Linked DNA regions of Homo sapiens. The protein of the gene in region 1 purifies or fractionates together with the protein of each later gene. This does not show direct contact. Each region holds a gene or a part of one and is shown in the gene's direction. Other genes may lie near its edges. The genes, in order: BTF3L4, OXSR1, NCBP3, ARIH1, PLIN3 and PRIM2.

Evidence for each region.
Region 2: the proteins of BTF3L4 (region 1) and OXSR1 fractionate together in Homo sapiens (co-fractionation; one large-scale study listed by BioGRID). This does not show direct contact.
Region 3: the proteins of BTF3L4 (region 1) and NCBP3 purify together in Homo sapiens (pull-down; one large-scale study listed by IntAct). This does not show direct contact.
Region 4: the proteins of BTF3L4 (region 1) and ARIH1 fractionate together in Homo sapiens (co-fractionation; one large-scale study listed by BioGRID). This does not show direct contact.
Region 5: the proteins of BTF3L4 (region 1) and PLIN3 fractionate together in Homo sapiens (co-fractionation; one large-scale study listed by BioGRID). This does not show direct contact.
Region 6: the proteins of BTF3L4 (region 1) and PRIM2 purify together in Homo sapiens (co-immunoprecipitation; 2 studies listed by BioGRID and IntAct, with this or other methods). This does not show direct contact.

Annotation. Positions count from the first base shown.
Region 1 is NC_000001.11:52,083,795-52,087,294, forward strand, and holds part of BTF3L4 (transcription factor BTF3 homolog 4), read left to right. Parts: intron 1-2,317; coding exon 2,318-2,377; intron 2,378-2,917; coding exon 2,918-2,964; 3' UTR 2,965-3,500.
Region 2 is NC_000003.12:38,224,537-38,228,036, forward strand, and holds part of OXSR1 (serine/threonine-protein kinase OSR1), read left to right. Parts: intron 1-34; coding exon 35-168; intron 169-3,500. UniProt on the Homo sapiens protein: Effector serine/threonine-protein kinase component of the WNK-SPAK/OSR1 kinase cascade, which is involved in various processes, such as ion transport, response to hypertonic stress and blood pressure.
Region 3 is NC_000017.11:3,839,747-3,843,246, reverse strand, and holds part of NCBP3 (nuclear cap-binding protein subunit 3), read left to right. Parts: intron 1-95; coding exon 96-161; intron 162-3,041; coding exon 3,042-3,147; intron 3,148-3,500. UniProt on the Homo sapiens protein: Associates with NCBP1/CBP80 to form an alternative cap-binding complex (CBC) which plays a key role in mRNA export. NCBP3 serves as adapter protein linking the capped RNAs (m7GpppG-capped RNA) to NCBP1/CBP80.
Region 4 is NC_000015.10:72,578,830-72,582,329, forward strand, and holds part of ARIH1 (E3 ubiquitin-protein ligase ARIH1), read left to right. Parts: intron 1-1,901; coding exon 1,902-2,162; intron 2,163-3,245; coding exon 3,246-3,358; intron 3,359-3,500. UniProt on the Homo sapiens protein: E3 ubiquitin-protein ligase, which catalyzes ubiquitination of target proteins together with ubiquitin-conjugating enzyme E2 UBE2L3.
Region 5 is NC_000019.10:4,854,168-4,857,667, reverse strand, and holds part of PLIN3 (perilipin-3), read left to right. Parts: intron 1-3,500. UniProt on the Homo sapiens protein: Structural component of lipid droplets, which is required for the formation and maintenance of lipid storage droplets. Required for the transport of mannose 6-phosphate receptors (MPR) from endosomes to the trans-Golgi network.
Region 6 is NC_000006.12:57,380,130-57,383,629, forward strand, and holds part of PRIM2 (DNA primase large subunit), read left to right. Parts: intron 1-1,901; coding exon 1,902-2,039; intron 2,040-3,500. UniProt on the Homo sapiens protein: Regulatory subunit of the DNA primase complex and component of the DNA polymerase alpha complex (also known as the alpha DNA polymerase-primase complex) which play an essential role in the initiation of DNA synthesis.

The DNA of each region.
Region 1 (3,500 bases):
AGATTGCCTGAGGTCAGGAGTTCGAGACCAGCCTGACCGACATGGTGAAACCTCGTCTGTACTAAAAATACAAAAATTAGCCAGGCATGGTAGCAGGCGCCTATAATCCCAGCTACTCGGGAGGCTGAGGCAGGAGAATTGCTTGAACCCGGGAGGCAGAGGTTGCAGTGAGCTGAGATCATGCCATTGCACTCTAGCCTGGGCAACAAGAGGGAAACTCCGTCTCAAAAAAAAAAAAAAAGAATATTCGGAAACATTTTGGTAGTAATAATAGTAAGTTGAGAAGTAATTACCTAAAAGGGTAGTGCCCAGATCTTCAGGCCATAATTTTATTTTATTTTATTTCATTTTATTTATTTTTGAGACATAAAGTCTTGCTCTGTCTCCCAGGCTGAAGTGCAGTGGTGCGATCTCAGGTCACAACAACCTCCACCTTGTGGATTCAAGCAATTTTCATGCCTCAGCCTCCCGAGTAGCAGGGACTACAGGTGGTGTGCACCACTGCACCCAGTTAATTTTTGTATTTTTAGTATACACAGGGTTTCGCCATGGTGGCCAGGCTGGTCTTGAGCTCCTGGCCTCAAGTGATCCACCTACCTACCGCCTCCCAATGTGCTAGGATTACAGGCGTGAGCTACCATGCTTGGCCCATCATTTTAAATAGTTAATTTGATATTCACTGCTAATTAATGACAATCAGAAAATACTGTTATATGGCTGGGCGCAGTGGCTCACTCCTGTAATACCAGCACTTTGTGATGCTGAGGAGGGAGTATTTCTTGAGGCCAGGAGCTCAAGACCAGCCTGGGCAACATGGTGAGACCCTATCTGTACAAAAAATACAAAAATTAGCCAGGTGTGATAGCACGTGCCTGTAGTCATAGCTACTCAGGAGGCTGATGCAGGAGGATCACTTGAGCCCAGGACTTCAAGTCTGCAGTGAGCTATGGAAAGCCACTGTACTTCAACCTGGGTGACAGAGGGGGGAGACCCTGTCTCTAAAAAAAAAAAAAGAAAAAAGAAAATAATGTTGTCAGACATCTATGTTTTTGTTAAATATTGATTGCCCTATAAATGTGGCAACCGTAAGTTCTGAATTTCCAAGATAGTCCTGGTTTCAAATGTGTCATGTTGCCCCTAAAAATGAAAAAATCTAGTATTGTAGTGCCCATACTACCTAGCTAGATACTTTCTTACACCAAAAGAAATGAAAAAAATCTTTTTTTTTTTTTTTTTTTTTTTTTGAGACAGAGTCTTGCTCTGTTGCCCAGGCTGGAGTGCAGTGGCATGATCTTGGCTCACTGCAACCTCCACCTGCCGGGTACAAGCAATTATCTGCCTCAGCCTCCCAAGTTAGCTGGGATTACAGGCGCCCGCCACTGCGCCTGGCTAATTTTTATATTTTTAGTAGAGACAGGGTTTCACCGTCTTGGCCCGGCTGGTCTTAAACTCCTGACCTCGTGATCCACCTGCCTCAGCCTCCCAAAGTGCTGGGATTACAAGCATGAGCCACTGTGCCCAGCTTTGTTGTTGTTGTTGTTGTTGTTGTTGCTTGGTTTTTTTTGTTTGTTTGTTTTTTTGTTTTGTTTTTTTTTTGAGACAGAGTCTGACTCTGTCGCCCAGGATGGAGTGCAGTGGATTACAGGTGTGAACCACCATACCTGGCTGAAAAAAACCTTAATATTAATTTTTTATTTGGAGAATATGGCCACTGTAAAGTCTTTTTACTCAGTGATCAGTTATTCCACTTTGCATATAAATTTTATCTTTGTAGGCCGTGTGTGGTGGCTTATGTCGGTAATCCCAGCACTTTGGGAGGCCAAGGCAGGTGGATCCCTTGAGGTCAGGAGTTCGAGACCAGCCTGGCCAACATGGTGAAACCCCATCTCTACTAAAAATACAAAAATTAGCTGGGTATGGTGGTGTTTGCCTGTAATCTCAGCTACTTGGGAGGCAGGGAGAATTGCTTGAACTTGGGAGGTGGAGACTGTAGTGAGCCAAGATCGCATCACTACACTCCAGCCTGGTCAACAGAGTGAGACCCTGTCTCAAAAAATGAATAAATAAAAATAAATAAAATAAATTTCATCTTTGTCACACATGGAAATTGCCAGCTGTGTTATCAGTGTATTAACTGATTAAAGTTTTATTTTTAATGTTACTCAAGCAAAAAATATGAATGGCATTTTAGATTGACAATATTTAGCTATTTCTGAGCAACTCTGTGTGATTTATACAGGAAAAAAGGGATAAACATTATAAGTTTTCTTTAAGGTCTTTGTTCTCAATGACTAATATTAAAATAAACTTTTTGTAGTCTTGGACAGTAAAGCACCAAAACCAGAAGACATTGATGAGGAAGATGATGATGTTCCAGGTAAGTGACATTTCCTTAGACTTAAGATTTTAAGCATCCTGTTTATCTCCTTTCAGTCATTGCATAGATAACTTTTAGGTTTGTGTTGATTGTAAGCTCATGAATTTAAATTGATTCACAATAATGTGGATAGGATCTAATGAAAAACAACGTAAGCACCCACCTTAGAACCTAGAATCAGAAATTGTCACACAAAGCTCTGCTGCCTGGATTTATTAAATTGAAATCACTGTGATTATAAATTTGCATAGCTATTGTTATAACATTTCTGTATGAATTATAATTGACATATGAAAATGCTATTCACCTCAGTAATTTGCATAGACAAAAGATGAACATTTCCTTAGGATTACTGTCCTAAGCAAATAATTAAATCATTGTTAGTAAAATGCCACCAGTTCATTTCTGCCTCCTTATGTTTTCAGGCTAATTCTGGTTGTACTAATTTTATTTTTTCGGGGGTTAGAAGTTAGGAGTTCCATTTACCTCTTTTTCCTTTTTTGTATTCTTTGATTCATATACTTTGTTTTTCTTTTTCAGATCTTGTAGAAAATTTTGATGAGGCATCAAAGAATGAAGCTAACTAAAAGTTTGGTTTTTGGAAGCTGGCATGGACTAGATTTAACAAATCAGCTATGTGGTTCCAAAGTTTTACAGACATGGAGAACATCACCTGTTACTAGTTCAGTAATATAAATATTTTGTATATTAATAATGCTGTTTGTTCAGCATTTTTCGGTCATTTGATTTTGCATTTTGCACTTCCTCCCAGGATATTTTTTTGGTCAAAATATGAAGTATTGGTGCAGTTTGAGGGTGTTTTGGTTTTTGATTCCTGGTTTTTTTGTTTTTTGTTTGGGGTATTTTTGGTGTATGTATGTTTATGTATGTGTGTGGGTATGTGTGTATACAGTGGAGAGCAAATTGGAAAACAGTTCTATTTATCCTCCTCCCTCCCCAGTAGAAATAAAAAAAATCTTTACATTTGTTACTTTTCTTTTCCCCCCGTAAGACACAGAATTAATGGAAAGTGAGTATCTTGGATTTCAAATCTGAAGAGATTTTTACCATTAGTGGTTTGATTTTAATTTGCTTGGTTAACTATCATATTTTTCATACACTT
Region 2 (3,500 bases), on another chromosome or scaffold:
TCACAAGTTTATAGTATATTGAAAATTCTTGCAGGTTTTAATGCTGACACTGCAGAACGATCCTCCTTCTTTGGAAACTGGTGTTCAAGATAAAGAAATGCTGAAAAAATATGGAAAATCATTTAGAAAAATGATTTCATTGTGCCTTCAAAAAGATCCAGAAAAAAGGTAAAATATGAGAAAAAGTCTACTTTTCTCTCTAATAAAACATTGTGAGAAGTCTAAGAATCACATACTCATATGTACAGGAAATTATTTTCAAAAGAACTAAATATAAACTTTAAAAAAGTATACAGAGACCATTATACTGGATTGGAAATGAATTGATTTCTGCCTTCTTTGTAGTATACAGTGTACCCTAAATAGTTCAGCTTTTTCCTTGTTAATTTCTTACAAAGTTGTACATTGTGAATTCTGTATTAATAAATGCCAAGTTAGTGGAGAGATTTGTTTTTAATTTGCATTTAAAATTTATAAATGAATGTCTTAATGCCATTTACAGTATTAATAAAGGAAAGACACATAGAAAATTTATATTTAGTGTAATAATCATACTTATTTCCATGTTAGAAAGATATTTTAGTAAGTGGACCAAAAATTCAAATAGCTTCCTTATCAATGTTAGACAGATTGAATGACAAGTGAGCAAATAAATAAGAACATCCGATATGTGTAACTTCATGAATTAAGCAGAATCGTAGAATGTTGGGGATCATTGAGTACAACCTTTTATTTTTGAGGTCACTTGATACTTAGTCATAGGAGTAGGACTTGAATCTCAAAGTCCTGATTCCTAACTTAGGGCTCTGTTCCTTCTGAATCTTATCTGTCTGTTTCACATATATATTCCACTCAGCTTCTTAGCACTGAGTTCTTTAATTTTTGTTTCTCTAAAGATCATTAAAAGGGAAAGACTTTGATGTTCTTGATCACATCTCTAGTGTATGTAATAGGGTTTCAGAATTTATTGTTGGAAATATTGGAAAGGGTAAGAAAAACAGGTAGCAAAATTTATACCTGTGTTTTTATAATTTTTTTTTTTCTGTTTCTGAGTAAACAGTTAAAAAAGACAGGAAACACTTTTCTTTTATCAAATTAGTTGGTTAAAGGAACAAAATTATCCTGTTACAAATACCTAGAAATGCCAGATAAAATCTATCCAACTTAAAGATTCTCAGATGCCAGAAATAATGAGGAAGCCCTAAGTTAAAGAAGAAATATTGTGAACTAATCCCATGGCTGTTTTCAGTGGGTCACTATTCATTCTGGTAACCTACTGATTTGGATTTATAACTCCCATGTGAAAACTGGAAGTGAGATCTTGGGTCCACCCAGTGGGGAGTTTGAACTGAGATTCTTCTTAAAGCTAAGAACTTCAGATGTCAGTATCCTTAGTAAAAGGATAGACAAGAATAAAAATTGTCATCACCAAGAGACAACAAAAACCTCTCCTGAATAATCAAGCCCTTCAACCTGGACATTCCACAGGTTTAGAGTCTATACTCCCTATGTTATCCAGGAACCCACAGGATTAGAAAGTTAAAAAAGCTTTACCAAATCAGTTTTTATTTTTGACGGAAGTAGTCACAGAGCTGCACTGGAAGAACACTTTCAAACTCTAGCTCCCATTGGATTCCTGAACATAATGCCCCACTGTAATAAGGTCACAATCCAAAATTAAGAAACACACAGTGAAACAATGCATTATGAACTAGTTAGCAGACACAAGCAGAAGGATTAGTGCTCCAGAAGATTTAGGTAATGCAGTGAAAATCTGAAAAGATACAAAATTAAGTATATTGAAAATAATTAAAATTAGAAGAAATCAGACCCACAAGAGAAGACTGTGACTATGACAGAAGAACCAAATAGCAATGCCAGAAATGAAAAATACAGTGATTAATGTTTAAAACTTTCCATGAGTGTGAGCTGGACTTGTTGACTCACTTCTGATGAGTAGAGTATGAAAAAGGAAAAATAGCAACTTTACAATGCACCTCCTCTACCCAATGACCAAGGTTAACATCACTATTAATAATACATTGATAAGACTGATATGTGCCTCTTGATATGGTGCAATGAGAAGGGCATATATATAACCTGTGAGGTATTCTTCCTCCAAATCCGTAACTTCGGTCTATAATGAGAAAACATCAGACAAACCCAAATCGAGGAATATGCAGCAAGATACCTGACCAGCACTCTTCAAAACTGTCAAGGAAGAGAGACTAAGAAACTGTCACAGATTGGAGGAAATTAAGAAGACGTGAAGACGGAAAGCAAGAGTATCCTATACTAGATCCTGGGACAGAAAAAGGACATTAGTGGAAAAACTGGAGAAATGGAATGAAGTCTGTAGTTTAGTTAATAGTATTGTACCAGTGTTGATATTTTAGTTGATTTCTTTATTATTATACTGTGGTTATGTAAAAGGTTCACAATAGCAGAAGGTGGTGAATGGCATGTAGGAACTCTGTACTAGCTTTGCAGCTCTTCTGTAAGTCTAAAATTATTATAAAACTTTAAGAAAACTGGAAGCTATAGAAAATCTATTCCAGTTTGTAAACCAAAATTAAACTTTGTTTAGAACATTGCTAAGTTAAAATAACACGCACAATGGACTGGTTAAACAGAACAACCAATAAAACAAAAAAGAGATTATTTACTCATCAAGTACCAGGCACTGTGGTAAACACTTAACATATATTGTTTAATTCTCACAGTAATCCTTTGAGGATAGCACTGTTATTTTCTTTATTTTACAAATGAAGAAACTGAATCACAGAGAGGTTAAGTAACCTTCTCCAAAGTCACACAGCTAATAAATGGTGGAATCAGAATTCTGACCCATGCAATTGGACTAGAGTTAACCTGTTTTAATCAGACTACACTATACTGAGGAAATTGCTCAGAATGTGGCACAGAAAGATCAAAGAGGGAATATGAAAGAAATATTAACATTTGGAGGGTAGACTGAGAAGGTTCAGTATGTTTGTGTGTATGCACATCCACACACACACACACACACACACACACACACACACACACACAAATGTACGTATACATATACATGAACTTACCAGGAAAGACTAGAGAGAGTATAGGAGAAGCGATATTCAAAGAAATAATGGCTGAGAATTTTCGAGAGTTGATGAAAGACCTATATTCTCAGAGTAAAGAACCATCCCCCCAGAATTCCAAGCAGTGTCCCCCTTCTTCCACTTGTACAAGTTGCTGTGAAACTACTGGACACGAAGCAAAGACAAACTCCTACAGGCAACCTCGGGGAACAGATTACCTACTGAGGATTAGCAGGTAGACTTGACAGCTACTTCCCCAATAACACAACAGTTGAGGCCAGCGTTTAGTGAAATGCTCAGAGAAAATGCAGTCATGTGTCACTTAAAATGATGAGGATACATTCTGTAATATGTGTATTAGGCAGTTTTGTCATTGTTTGAACATCGTGGAGTGTACTTACACAAACTTTGATGGTACAG
Region 3 (3,500 bases), on another chromosome or scaffold:
AAAGGAAAAAAGAACCTGCAGATGTCAGGCCGACTTTTATTATAGGTTTTTCCTCAATTGCTGTCTGAATTTCTCACCCTTCCCCTTTGTGTTAGGACACGAGCAGAAGATATGAAAACAAGGCTGGCAGCTTCATCACTGGAATTGATGTCACCTCCAAGGTAAGACAGGCTATGATTTATTTATTCAGCTTGATAAGCAAGTGAACTTAATGAATTTGATCCCTAGGACATAACAGTAAATATTTCCTCTTTTATTTTGTTGCTGGATTTAAATTTTTTTTCTAAAAAAAATTGTGTTATTGGCCAGGCACGCTGGCTCATGCCTGTAATCCTAGCATTTTGAGAGGCCAAGCAAGTGGATCGTTTAAGCCCAGGAGTTCGAGACCAGCCTGGGCAACATAGTGAGACCCGTCTCTACGAAAGATACAAAAATTAGTCGGGTGTGGTAGCACAGGTCTGTAGTCCCAACTACTCAAGAGGCTGAGGTGGGAGGATCGCTGGAGCCTGAGAGGTTGAGGCTGCACTGAGCTGAAATCGTGCCACTGCACTCCAGTGGGGGCAACAAAAAAAAATTTTGTGTTATACAACGATGTCTTCATGCATCCTGAAACGGTACAGGCAGCATTTGTGTGTTCTTACAGCCATGAAAGGATAAAATCACTCTACTTAGATACCTGTGTTGAACCGTTTCCAAGAAAATGTCCAAGACGGGGGATGCTTTTTTAAATGGTATGTCCATTTCTAAAAAAATGTGTACTGTTTCCACTTGAAATGAAACAAAACATGAAAAGTGCCTGGCAGATGGTAGGCCCCCCATATTTAGGTGGAGTCTCGCTCCGTTGCCCAGGCTGGAGTGCAGTGGTGCGATCTCGGCTCACTGCAGCCTCCACCTCCTGGGTTCCAGCGATTCTTCTGCCTCAGCCTCCTGAGTAGGTAGGACTACAGGCGCCCGCCACCACGCCTGGCTAATTTTTGTAATTTTAGTAGAGACAGGGTTTCATTGTATTGGTCAGGCTGGTCTTGAATTCCTGACTTCAGGTGATCCACCTGCCTCAGCCTCCCGAAGTGCTGGGATTCCAGGTGTAAGCCACCGTGTCGGCATAATAGGCCCTTAATAAGACTATTGCCTTGTATCTGATGATTGCTATTACCAGATTACCACCTTCATTGTAACACCTCATAGAGTCAAGCCTATTATTTTCCTTATATGTAGTCAATACATGTAAGTTGCTTTAATCAGTGATGTTCCGTTTTAGACATTTTTTCTGATTTTAATGTTTACAGTTAAGTTTGGAACAGAATTTTGTATTACATTTCTGAATAATAGTATATATTGCTGTATTGAATACATAAAAGCAAAAATAAAAATATATTTCGTGCCTTCCTTTTTATAGTGTTTTTTTTTTTTTTTTGAGACAGAGTCTCACTCTGTCACCCAGGCTGGAGTTCAGGGGTGCGATCACGGCTCACTGCAACCTCTGCCTCCTGGATTCAATTGATCCCTCTGCCTCAGCCTCCCGAGTAGCTGGGACTACAGGTGGATGCTATCATGCCCAGCTAACCTTTTTATGGTTTATCTGTGTCTCTTGTGTTTCCAATCACTTAAAGGCCCCCCATCCCCGCAAAAAAAAAAAAAAAAAAAGAGAGAGAATTGGTCATCTTTTAGACAAGAAAAGAGAATAAAGTGAAAATCTTTTCTTACTGTAATTGAAAAAGTAAACTATTCATAATCTTACACTGTTTGCCATTATATGACACAGGTATATGGGAAAAGGGTGATAGTCTCAGAGTTAGTACTTTGTTTCTAAAGGAAGGTAAATTGTTGTTTGTACTAGGAAGACTTCAGTGAAGAAAATGAGCGTTAACTATTGGGAAAGAACAGAAGTGTTGCAACTTTACCAATCCCCACAAGCTCTCTGTAGTCAGACCTTCAATTAGTGTGGCAAAGTCAATATACAATTAGTGAAGGGGACTGGGCGCGGTGGCTCACATCTGTAATCCTGGCACTTTGGGAGGCCGAGGCAGGCAGATCACGAGGTCAAGAGATCGAGACCATCCTGGCCAACATGGTGAAACCCCGTCTCTACTAAAAATACAAAAATTAGCTGGGCGTGGTGGTGTGCACCTGCAGTCCCAGCTACTCAGGAGGCTAAGGCAGGAGAATCTCTTGAACCCGGGAGGCGGAGGTTGCTGTGAGCTGAGATCGTGGCAGCCTGGCGACAGAGTGAGAGTCCGTCTCAAAAACAAAAACAAACAAAACCAATTAGTGAAGGGTTCCTAAGAGCCATCAGAAACCCACAGTTGGACCTGGGTTTATTTTAGCTCTTAGAAGAAACTTACAAAGCTGATTATTTTTTCAGTAAAGTGTCAATGGTTCTTATCACTTAGAGATGAAAACTGGTGATTCCGTGGACACGAGGCTGGAAGAGGAGGGAGAGTTTCTTTGCTTCGGTGTTATTTTTAAACAGACTAGCTTTAGGGAGTGGACTGCTCAGGCAGTTATAATGTGGAAGAGCGTGATAGGTGTGATTACCATTGCTCAGACAATGTGAAGTGGTTGTAGGTGGGCTCCTAGAAATAGCACTGGAATCAGATCTGCTTGCTTAATAGCTGAAGTATCTCCAGCAAACCTTTTTGCTTTTTTGTGCCTCCATTTCTGCACCTGGAAAATTGGGATGTTGAAATTGTTTAGTTGTAATTTGTTGGCATAATTGATAATAACAAATGAAGTGTCATATAACTTTATAAACTTTAAAGGACTATTCATTCAGTCAGCAGATACTCACTGAGTTCCTACTATGTCCCAGGCACAGTGATAGGCTGTGTTATGTCGGAGATGGTTGCAAATTACAGCGATATTAACATATCCCCCCAGTCATTGAGTGTGAATATCCAGGTCTCTGCCAGACTGATTCAAGGTGTAGTGTTGCTTATTTCTTCTTTTTTAGTTCAGGTTTGTCACTGATGCATCATGATGCATGTGTGATTTAACTCGCCTTCTCCATATTTTACTACTTTCACTTTTTCTGTACTTTCTAGGAAGCAATTGAAAAGAAAGAGCAGCGAGCCAAGCGCTTCCATTTTCGATCGGAAGTAAATCTTGCCCAAAGAAATGTAGCCTTGGACCGAGACATGATGAAGAAAGGTACAGGGTGTTTTGTGGGAAATTTGTCCACATTTCCCCAGAGAGTGCCTTTTCCCTGCCATCACCTCATGCTTCTGGCCTTGCCTTGCGTGTCCACTCCTTATCCAAGCACTCTTGTGAGAAGGGACCTGTGAAGTCTCCATTTCTGAGGTCACCTGTTTAAAGTTCAGATGCTGTCAGCTGGCTCAGATGTTAGAGCTGGGAAATAAGAGATTGTCTTTTCTGAGGAGGCCCAGAAAAAGTTACCAGTTAGTGGCAGAGCTGAGATTCGAACCTGTGCTTCTAAGGACCCTTACTCATTTTCTCCTTTTATCGTAGAGGTGTTAACTTTTCTTTGCCTTTAAACGTAGTGA
Region 4 (3,500 bases), on another chromosome or scaffold:
TTTCAGAGGTAGAGTCTCGTTCTCTCCCCAAGGCTGGAGTGCAGTGGTGCAACTCGGCAATTCTCCTGCCTCAGCCTCCCAAGTAGATGGGATTACAGGCACATGCCACCACGCCCAGCTAATTTTTTGTATTTTAGTAGATACAGGGTTTCACTGTGTTGCCCAGGCTGGCTCAAACTCCTGAGCTCAGGCAATCCACCCGCCTCAGCCTCCCAAAGTGCTAGGATTACAGGCATGAGCCACCACACCCAGCCTATCTTAAATTTTCTTTTATAGTTGGTTCAAATTGGGATCCACATAGGTCCACAAATTGGATTTAATTGATATCTCTTGAGTCTCCTCTACCTGTTGTTCCTTCTCTTCCCCCCTCCTTGCTTTTTTTTCTTTGTTGAAGAAACTAGATCGTGTTGTCCTGTAGAGTTTCCCACATTATGGATTTTGCTGGTTGCAACTGCATGGTGTCATTTAATAGGTTCTTCTATCCCTGCATTTTCTGCACTGGTGATTAATTCAAGAAACTTGATCAAATTCAGATTCAGTGGTTGGGGGGGGAGCCCAGAATACTTAATTGATTATACTTTCTATTGTATTATATCAGGAGTTACATGGTATGTAGTTGCCACTGTAGTTTTCTACTTAAAAATATCTCTGCTTTTTGCTTGTTTTACATCTTGTGGCATACTGTAGAACAGTGCCATCCAGTAGAACATTTTTGTAATGATGTAAATGTTCTTTATCACCAGTGTCTAATTTGGTAGTCACTAAGCACATGTGACTATTGAGCGATGAGGAACTGAATTTTTAGTTTCTTAAATTGAATTTTAAGTAGTCAGGTGTGGCTTGTGGCTACTGTATTGGAAAGTACAATTAATAGGACATTTTTCAAGAGTATTAAATAACAAAAGTAGCAGTAGATGTCTATTCCTGATTTTAGCCTAGATCACAGTACTGTTTCATCAGTAAATCAGCTTTTTAAATTATTAATATTTTTAATGGACAAATCATAATTATACACATTTATGGAGTACAGTGGAATGTTTTGAAATATGTAAACAATGCAATGATTAAATCAAACTAATTGTTGTATTGCCTTGCCTTAACATTTTTATGGTGAGACATTTGAAATGATACTTATTTTGAAATATATATTATTATTGACTATATTCACCCTGTTGTGCAATAAATCTCAAAACTTACTCATCCAGTCTATCTGAAACTTTGTACTCTTTGGTCACCAACTCCCCATTCCCTCCCTTCCTACCCCTCTATCCCCGCAAGCCTCTGGTAACCGTCATTATACTCTGTATGTCTGTGAGTTCAACTTTTTTAGTTTCTACATATAAGCGAGATCATGTAGTATTTCTTTTCTGTGCCTGGCTTATTTCACTTAGTGTAATGTCCTCCAGGTTCATCCATGTTGTCACAACAGAATTCCTTTTTTGAGGCTGAGTACTCGTGTGTGTGTGTACATACATGACGTTTTCTTTCTGTGTTCATCCATTGATGGACACTTTACATGGATTCCATGTCTTGGCTATTGTGAATAATGCTGTAGTGAATGTGAGAGTACAGAGATACCTTTGACATACTGATTTCAATTCCTTTTCATATATACACAGTAGTGGGATTGCTGGATTCTGTGGTGGTTTTGTTTTCAGTTTTTTAAGGAACCTCCCCATACCATTTTCCATAATGGCTATACTAATTTACATTCCCATCAACAGTGTATCAAGAGTCTCCTTCTTTCTTTATCTTTGCCAAGACTTATCTTTCATCTTTTTGATAAAAACCATTCTAACAGGTGTGAAGTGAGACTTCATTATGGTTTTAATTTGATAATCAGCTTTTATGTACAGTTTATGTGTTATAATTATATCACCCAATTTTTCTTAATGGGACAGCGATCTAGGGCAGCCCTGCAGAGGTACCTGTTCTACTGTAATCGCTATATGAACCACATGCAGAGCCTGCGCTTTGAGCACAAACTATATGCTCAGGTGAAACAGAAAATGGAGGAGATGCAGCAGCACAACATGTCCTGGATTGAGGTGCAGTTCCTGAAGAAGGCAGTTGATGTCCTCTGCCAGTGTCGTGCCACACTCATGTACACTTATGTCTTCGCTTTCTACCTCAAAAAGAATAACCAGTCCATTATCTTTGAGGTAGGAGTAGTTCTGGGTGAGGAAAAAGCCCACCTTGTATCATAGGTCTACCTGATCTTTCATATATAAGATACAGAGTTTTCAGGGTTCTTGTTTGTTCAGAACATGTAGGTAGACGAATGTATTTATTACAAAGATACAAGAAATTTCTATTTCTTGTCCTAAATTATATTCAGATCGATGTGGTTTAGCCAGCTAGTGATTAGGTATGCAGGTTCTGGAGTCAGCCCTAGATTTTAATCTTTACTTCATTATGTTTTAGCTCTGTTGATTTGGAGCAAATTCCTTAACCTCTTATTTGTCCATTTTAAAGTGAGGATAGTACCTTTCTAGGTTGTTATGAGGTTTAAGTGAGACAATTTGTGTTTTATGTGAGACAATTTGTGTTAATTGCTATACGGCACCTGGAACATCATAAGTTCTCAATAAAAGCCTTTATTCAGGCTAAACTAACCCTGCAATATTAGAAGTTAATGTGGTGGTTATCTTTAGTGGAGAAATAATGACTAAAAAGCCAGCTTTTAGCAGTAAAGGTTTTCTCAAGTAAAGATGTTCATTTAAAATTGATGCATAAAACATTGATATCTGTATATGACTAGACAATAAGACTGACTAGCAGATGGGACTTCAGTTGGGTAACAGGTACAAAACTAGCCATAGTGGTAAAGGATGATACAATTTGAATCTTCCATACAGTGTTTTCTTATAAGAAATAAGTATAGCCAGATGTAAGCAATAATAGGTTTCTATTTTTTCTCATTTACCTTTGAGTTTTCAGCAAAGAGCAGCTCTCAGAACGAGAAGATTCCAAAAGACATTTTAAATCCTTTCAAATGGTCTTCAGTATTCTTCCAAAAGTAATGGGTGAAATCTTTCGTTCTTTTAACATTTAAAAAATTGTTCTGGAAAAGAACAAACAAGTTATTAGAGATGAAAGCCCATAGAGCTTTACAGGTGCAGTTAAACCACCTATGAAAGTTACAGAATGAGTGTTGAGAGCAGTCTGTAGTCAACAAAACAGTGAAAATGGTTTATCTTTTAGCTTTATTTTGAAGCCAAAATTTACTTTCATTCTTCTTACAGAATAACCAAGCAGATCTAGAGAATGCCACAGAGGTGCTCTCGGGCTACCTTGAACGAGATATTTCCCAAGATTCTCTGCAGGATATAAAGCAGAAAGTACAAGACAAGTACAGGTAATTTTTTTTTAAGCTGTTGAATAAAACTTTCTGCCAGTGATGATCCTTACTGGTAAAGTTCAGTGATAGTGAAACTGGGTTTAGCATATCCAGCAACTGAGCTTTTGCCATGTTTCTCACAGATTGCTTCTGTCCGTTG
Region 5 (3,500 bases), on another chromosome or scaffold:
TGGCAATGCTGACCTGGGGTTAACACCTGAAGGCCCAGAACAGCACATGGCTTGTAGCAAATGTTGGCTCTTAACATTAAAAAAAAAAATTTTTTTTTTGAGACAGGTTCTCACTCTGTCACCCAGGGTGGGGTGCAGTAGTGTGATCATGGCTCAACTGCAGCCTTGAACTCCTGGGCTCAAGTGATCCTCCCATCTCAGCTTCCCAAGTAGCTGGGACCACAGGCATGCACCACCATGCCTGGCTATTTTTAATTTTTTGTAGAGACGAGTTTTCACCATGTTGCCCAGGCTGTTCTCAGACTCCTGGGCTCAACAGATCCTCCTGCCTCAGCCTCCTGAGTAGCTGGGACTAGGTGCATCCACCACGCCTGGCTAATTTTTGTACTTTTTGTCAAGACGGAGTCTCGCCATATTGCCCAGGCCGGTCTCCAACTCTTGGGCTCAAGCAATCCTCCTGCCTCAGCCCCACAAAGTGCTAGAATTATAGGAGTGTGCCACTGTGCCCTACCTCAGTTTCCCTTAATCACCGCTTTTTAAAGACCCTGTCTCTAAATACAGCCACATTCTTACCCCTGGGGATCAGGACTTCAACATAAGAATTTGGGGTTGAGGGGGCCATAATTCAACCTATAACAGCCTGGGATGAAAAAATGAGGCACAGACCAGGCGTGGTGGCTCACGCCTTACTCCCAGCACTTTGGGAGGCCGAAGCGTGCAGATCACTTGAGATCAGGAGTACGAGACCAGCCTGGCCAACATGGTGAAACCCTGTGTCTACTAAAAATTCAAAAATCAGCCAGGCGTGATGGTGAGTTCCTATAATCTCAGCTACTCGGGAGGCTGAGGCACGAGTATCACTTGAACCTGGGAGGCAAGAGGTTGCAGTGAGCCGAGATCGTGCCACCACGCTCCAGCCTGGGCAACAGAGCAAGGCTCTGTCTCAAAAAAAAAAAAAAAAACACCCTCCTTCAGATAAGTGTGAGGCTTAATCGGTTATTGTTTGTCTCCCCAGCTGGGACCAGGGCACAGGCTGCCTGCTTTGTGGCTGTGTCCAGTGCCCAGCAGGCAGCCTGGCACAGGGTAGATGCTTATTTTTTTAGTTTTTTGAGACAGAGTGTTGCTCTTGTTGCCCAGGCTGGAGTGCAATGGTGCGATCTCGGCTCACTGCAACCTCCGCCTCTCGGGCTCAAGCGATTCTCCTGCCTCAGCCTCCCGAGTAGCTGGGATTACAGGCATGCACCACCATGCCTGGGTAATTTTATCTTTTTAGTAGAGATGGGGTTTCTCCATGTTGGTCAGGCTGGTCTCGAACTCCCAACCTCAGGTGATCTGCCTGCCTCGGCCTCCCAAAGTGCTGGGATTACAGGTGTGAGCCACCGCGCCCTGCAGATAGATGCTTATTAAGTATTCAGGTGCTCCATGTCCGCTTCAGCCCAGTGGTTACAGAAGGGCCACCCTCGGGTACCACCTGCTTGTGTCTGGGTCTGTAGCATCAGAAATAGGTGATCCCTGGGTTGGAGGCAGGACAAGCCAGCCGCATCCCAGCATCCTTGGACTTTCCCTGAGACCACCTGCAGGGACAGGCAGCTTATTCATCCACTTGCTATTGAGTGCCTACTGTATGCCGGGGAGCTGTGCTGTCCCATCATGGTTAGACTTCCTCACCTCCCATTTATGCAGAAATGGCCTTAGCTGGGAAACAGCAGAGCGGTTGTCAACTTGCATTTTTTTTTTTTTTTTGAGACAAGGTCTTGCTCTGTAGCCCAAGCTAGAGTGCAGTGGCGTGATCTTGGCTCACTACAGCCTTGACCTCCTAGACTTAGGCAATCCTCCCAGCTCTCAGCCTCCTGAGAAGCTGGGACTACAGGTGTGCACCACCACACCTGACTAATTTTTTAATTTTTTGTAGGAATGGGGTCTTGCTATATTGCCCAGGCTGGTCTCAAACTCCCAGGCTAGCCAGGCACGGTGGCTCACGCCTGTAATCCCAGCACTTTGGGAGGCCGAGGCGGGCGGATCACGAGATCAGAACAACAGAGCGAGACTCCATCTCAGAAACAAAACAAAAAACAAACTCCTGGGCTCAAGCAATCCTCCTGCCTGCCTTGGCTTCCCAAAGTGCTGGGATTATAGTTGTGAGCCACTATGCCCAGCCATGCCTACACCTTATCAGCAAAGGCCAATAGTGGGCTTGGCTGAGGGGGGATGGAAACTGCTGAGCTTACAGGAAGATGGGAAACGTCAACCAGGAGCCCCCGTCTCAGGGCCAAGCCCTTGCTTCCCTTTCTCTCCCACTGATAGCGTAGGAGGCCAACAGTCTTTCTGTTTATAGAAGGGATAAGCTCAGGGTGAATTCTTCAAGGTCACTGAACAGAGCAGCAGCTGGGAGCTTTTTTTTTTTTTTTTTTTTTTTTTCAGATGGAGTCTCGTTCTGTTGCCCAGGCTGGAATGCAGTGGCGTGATCTCAGCCCACTGCAACCTCTGCCTCCTGGGTTCAAGTGATCCTCCTGCCTCAGCCTCCCAAGTAGCTGGGATTATAGGCGCCCATCACTACGCCCAGCAAATTTTTGTATTTTTAGTAGAGATGGGGTTTCACCATGTTGGCCAGGCTGGTCTCGAACTCCTGACCTCAGGTGATCCAGCTGCCTTGGCCTCCCAAAGTGCTGGGATTATAGGCGTGAGTCACCGTGCCCGGCCAATTTTTGTATTTTTTGTAGAGGTGAGGTCTTACTATGTTGCCCAGGCTGTTCTCACACTTCTGGGCCCAAGCGATCCTCCCACCTCAGCCTCCCAAAGTGCCGGGATGACAGGTGTGAGCCACCGTGCCTGGCCTGCTGTGAGCTCTTGACTTTTTGAGAGGTGCAATGCTCTCTCAATTCTGGGCCCTATGAGTTTTTTCCCCCTTTGTGAAGAGGTAACTTTCCCCAGGTTCTGGGGGACGGTGGTGTTGTCAGAGCTAGATTTTAATCCGGGCCAGTGTGAGAACGTGCGTGTTCACTGAGTAGTGGGGCTGTTAGAACCTGACTCTCATCGGGGGCGTTGGCTCATGCTGGCTCACACAGTGAAACCCCGTCTCTACTAAAAATACAAAAAATTAGCCGGCCGTGGCAGTGCACGCCTGTAGTCCCAGCTGCTGGGGAGGCTGAGGCAGGAGAACCGCTTGAACCTGGGAGGTGGAGGTTGCGGTGAGCCGAGATAGTGCCACTGCACTCCAGCCTGGGTGACAAGAGCAAAAACTCTGTAAAAAAAAACAAAAACAAAAACAAAAAACTTGACTCTCACACCCTCTTCCCCCACAAAAAGATGAACTCTCATGAGTACAAGAGGACTGAGTCTTCAGGGAAGCACCAACTTGGGTAGGAATGGGGCAGGTGTGGTTTTCAACTTTGCGGAGAGCCCTCTGCATAGAGATCTGTCTAAAGACTTAGCTTCAGCTGGACACAGTGGCTCATGTCGGTCATCCCAGCACTTTGGGAGGCCAAAGCAGGAGGACTGCT
Region 6 (3,500 bases), on another chromosome or scaffold:
TCATTGCACTAATGGTGTGCCAATGTTCTCTCCTGGGCTGTCTCCTTCCACGGACGCATTCCCAACCCTGCTTGGGCTCTGACCTCCCATTACAGGCTGTTTTCCTAATGGAATACCCTCCTTGCATTGTTTGGGTTCTTACACCCTGCACTGGGCTATCCCCTGCCAGGAAACCCTCATCACCCATTTGGCCCAACACTCTGTTTGGATTGCTGCCTTGCGTGGAAGCCCCCTTTCGCTTCTCTTGACCTCTGACATCGTGGTGTCTTGCCTCATGGTCTCTCTGTGATTCCACTGGGCTCTGACATTGTAAGCCTACGTTTTTTCCTATGGGAATGCCCTCCTTAACCTACTCAGATTCCATCATCCTGTGCTTGGCCACCTCAGTTTCCCCTCCCCACTCAGTTCAGATAACTACGTCACATGAACCCTTCCAGAAGGGGAAGAGGGAAGAGTTTAAATTCATTTTACAATTTGATAACTGCAACCCCACAATTTCCTTTGAAAAGAATGTGCTAATTATTATGAGTGAGTGCCAGTAGTTTAAAGTCCTGCCCCATTCCAGCTTCTTCGTTTCGACTGTTGGGCCATCATTCAGTCAGCCTTTCAAGCCTAGAGTGTGGTGATCAATATTTATTTCTCTTACACCACACATTTCCAGTTACTCTGCCTTCACATCATCTTTTGCTTCTACTTGGGCATTTTTGTTTCCACTGTGACCACCTTAATAAGCTAGAATCATGAAATACTATGGCTAAAGAATCCCTAAGGGTCAGTTAGCCTGTGTCTTCCTCCCCTCTCTCAGCTTTACAGATCTGGCTGCTGAGATTTAGAGGCATTCATTAAATTCACCAAATAAGTCTAGTCAGTATCAGAGCTTGGACTAGAACTCATGTTTCTTCCCTATATTATTGCAGTAAACCCTCTTACCTGCTCATCTGATATGTCCTATGTAAGCTACCTATTTGGTGCAGTATCACACAATTTACCCTGTAGGTCTGTTTGACTTTCCGTGTGTGCCCATGAGGGCAGGGACTGTGTTGCAGTTGTAGAAATAGGTAAATTAATTGAAAGTTGTTAAAAAGCACATGATCTGTTTATAGTGTGAGATGTCGTTGGATATACAGAAAATTGTATGCATTTATATTTAATTCTTCCTTAAAACTTGAATGAATAGGCAATTTGGGAATCATTTTTCACCTAATTTTTTAACCTCGTTTTTTAAAAAAGAAAAATTCTATTGGAGAGTAAGAATGATTTTTACAGTTTACTAATATCATACTTCGCTCATCTCTTAGAATTTTAAGATTGTTCATAGGGTTTAAAAATCTAAGATTTTTAAAAATAAATTCTTGGGGCAAATACTTCTTTTAATAGCAAAACTGAATGCTTATTATTTCCATTTCTTAGTACTGAGATTAGCTTTTTCAGTATATTTCTCTGGAGTGAGAATGGAAACATACATGAAGAAATTGGAATTTACTTACAAGTAATTTTCAGCTCTGAATATGTTGTTTACAAATTAGGATTCTCTCTGATGCAGAATACAAAGTGGGATATGTGAGGTGAATGCAACATGTGTAGAAGTCTTGAGTTAAGAGTTTGAAATCCTGGGGATTATGTTTTGTAAATTCAGAGGTTAAGGAATAAAAGTAAGCATTCCAACTTGGCCTTTTAGTGTTACTATTTTTCAAAACATCAACTCTGAAACGAACATATTTTTGTACTGCCACTGTTTGCTAATGCTGTTGAGTTTTAAGGAGGATAAATTAATCATTTTGATATTCTTTTGGCTCTGCTAGGACTAATGAATTTCTTTGTTTATACTTTATACATATGAAGACTTAGGATTTCTTAATGACAGGTGCTGACTTATTTTGCCTGTTTTACTCTTAATTCAGATCCCTTTTGCTGATGCTCTGGATTTGTTTCGAGGAAGGAAAGTCTATTTGGAAGATGGCTTTGCTTACGTACCACTTAAGGACATTGTGGCAATCATCCTGAATGAATTTAGAGCCAAACTGTCCAAGGCTTTGGCAGTGAGTATTTTACTTGATTTCTGTATCTGACATGTTCACACTTTCAGTTATATACCCCTGGTAGTTTTATTCTGTGTTTCTCTAGGAAATAAGTTAATTCAGTTTTCATAATGATATTCAGATTACATATGATGTTGTACTGTTAATCCCAAAATTCCTAGGTTTTTATTTGTTACTATCCATAGTTGGTTTTTAAGTTTTTTTTCTTGATCCTACTAATACCAATGCTGAGTGATTAATTTTGTGAGTAACCTCTGTGGGTTTCTTCATGGTCATGTCTTTTTTCCTTAGAAATAGACTTCGTATATGGCTCTTAACAATTAGTGTGGCCTGTGGTAGATATAACTCCTAGATTTCTGTTCTGAATTAGTATTTGGTATCAGTAGAAGACAATATAGAAGAAAATCTTAAGTACTAACACTGTGATATGCTAGTGCTGCAATGAGTAGCTCCATACTGGGTGAATTTGGAGGTAGCTGTGTTGAACAAATGACATGATCAGTGATTTTTAAGTAGTTTGTTGGAAGTGTGACTCTTAAGTGGTGATATCTTAAAACTATACACATTTTTATATGTAAAACACATATTTTACAGTTGTTGTCTCTTAATCTGAGTCAGTTTTTAATACTTTTTTTGTACCTAATGCAGAAGAAGACTTCAAAGGTTTGTGACATGGCTGTTTTAAACTGTACTGATTATAGTGTAAGCATATGCCAAGCTTTCCTTCTCAGTTAAAAATTGTAGTATTTTCTGATATAAATAAATTTTTATTGACTCTCTGGGGTTACCTAAATATGTATAATTTAGCTATGTCAGCACTTGGGAAGACTAAAATACTAACTCTGTGTTTATTAAATGAAGGAATTTATGAGAACACCTAGCATAACAGGTATTTAGTAACTGTTAATATTCTTTCTCCATTCCTAATCCTGTTATTTCTTTATCCTCATGAAAGTTGATGCTTTTAAATTTTTTCTTTACTTGTCTGTCACTACCCTAGATTATATTCTAGTTACAGCTAAGAATAGTGTCTTTCACCACTGTGGAAGACACTGATACTTGTCTACTGTTTGGCCATTGCTCTTTTATTATTCTTAGTTTTATTCACCCATATTCTCTCTGTTGACATTTTAGACCACACTTCTTTGTGTGAAATAGACAAATATTTTCCAGCATATTGGATAGTTTTAGCTGTCATCTATTAAATGCTGGTGGTGGACCCCAGTCTCCATGACAACCAAAAATATCACCGTGCATTTCAGAAAACTTCTGGCATGTTAATGCTACTATTAATCTGATCATAGTCATTTCCTTCTTACCAAATTTTTAATTTATGCCTGTGACAATGTCATTGTGGCTAAAAAGTATGAGTTCTTTGGGGGCTCCTGAAAAAAGTTTTTCTTGCTAAAAAAAAAAAAAAAAAAAGGCATGTGGGATGAAGTAGTCTTTTTTTCCCCCCTC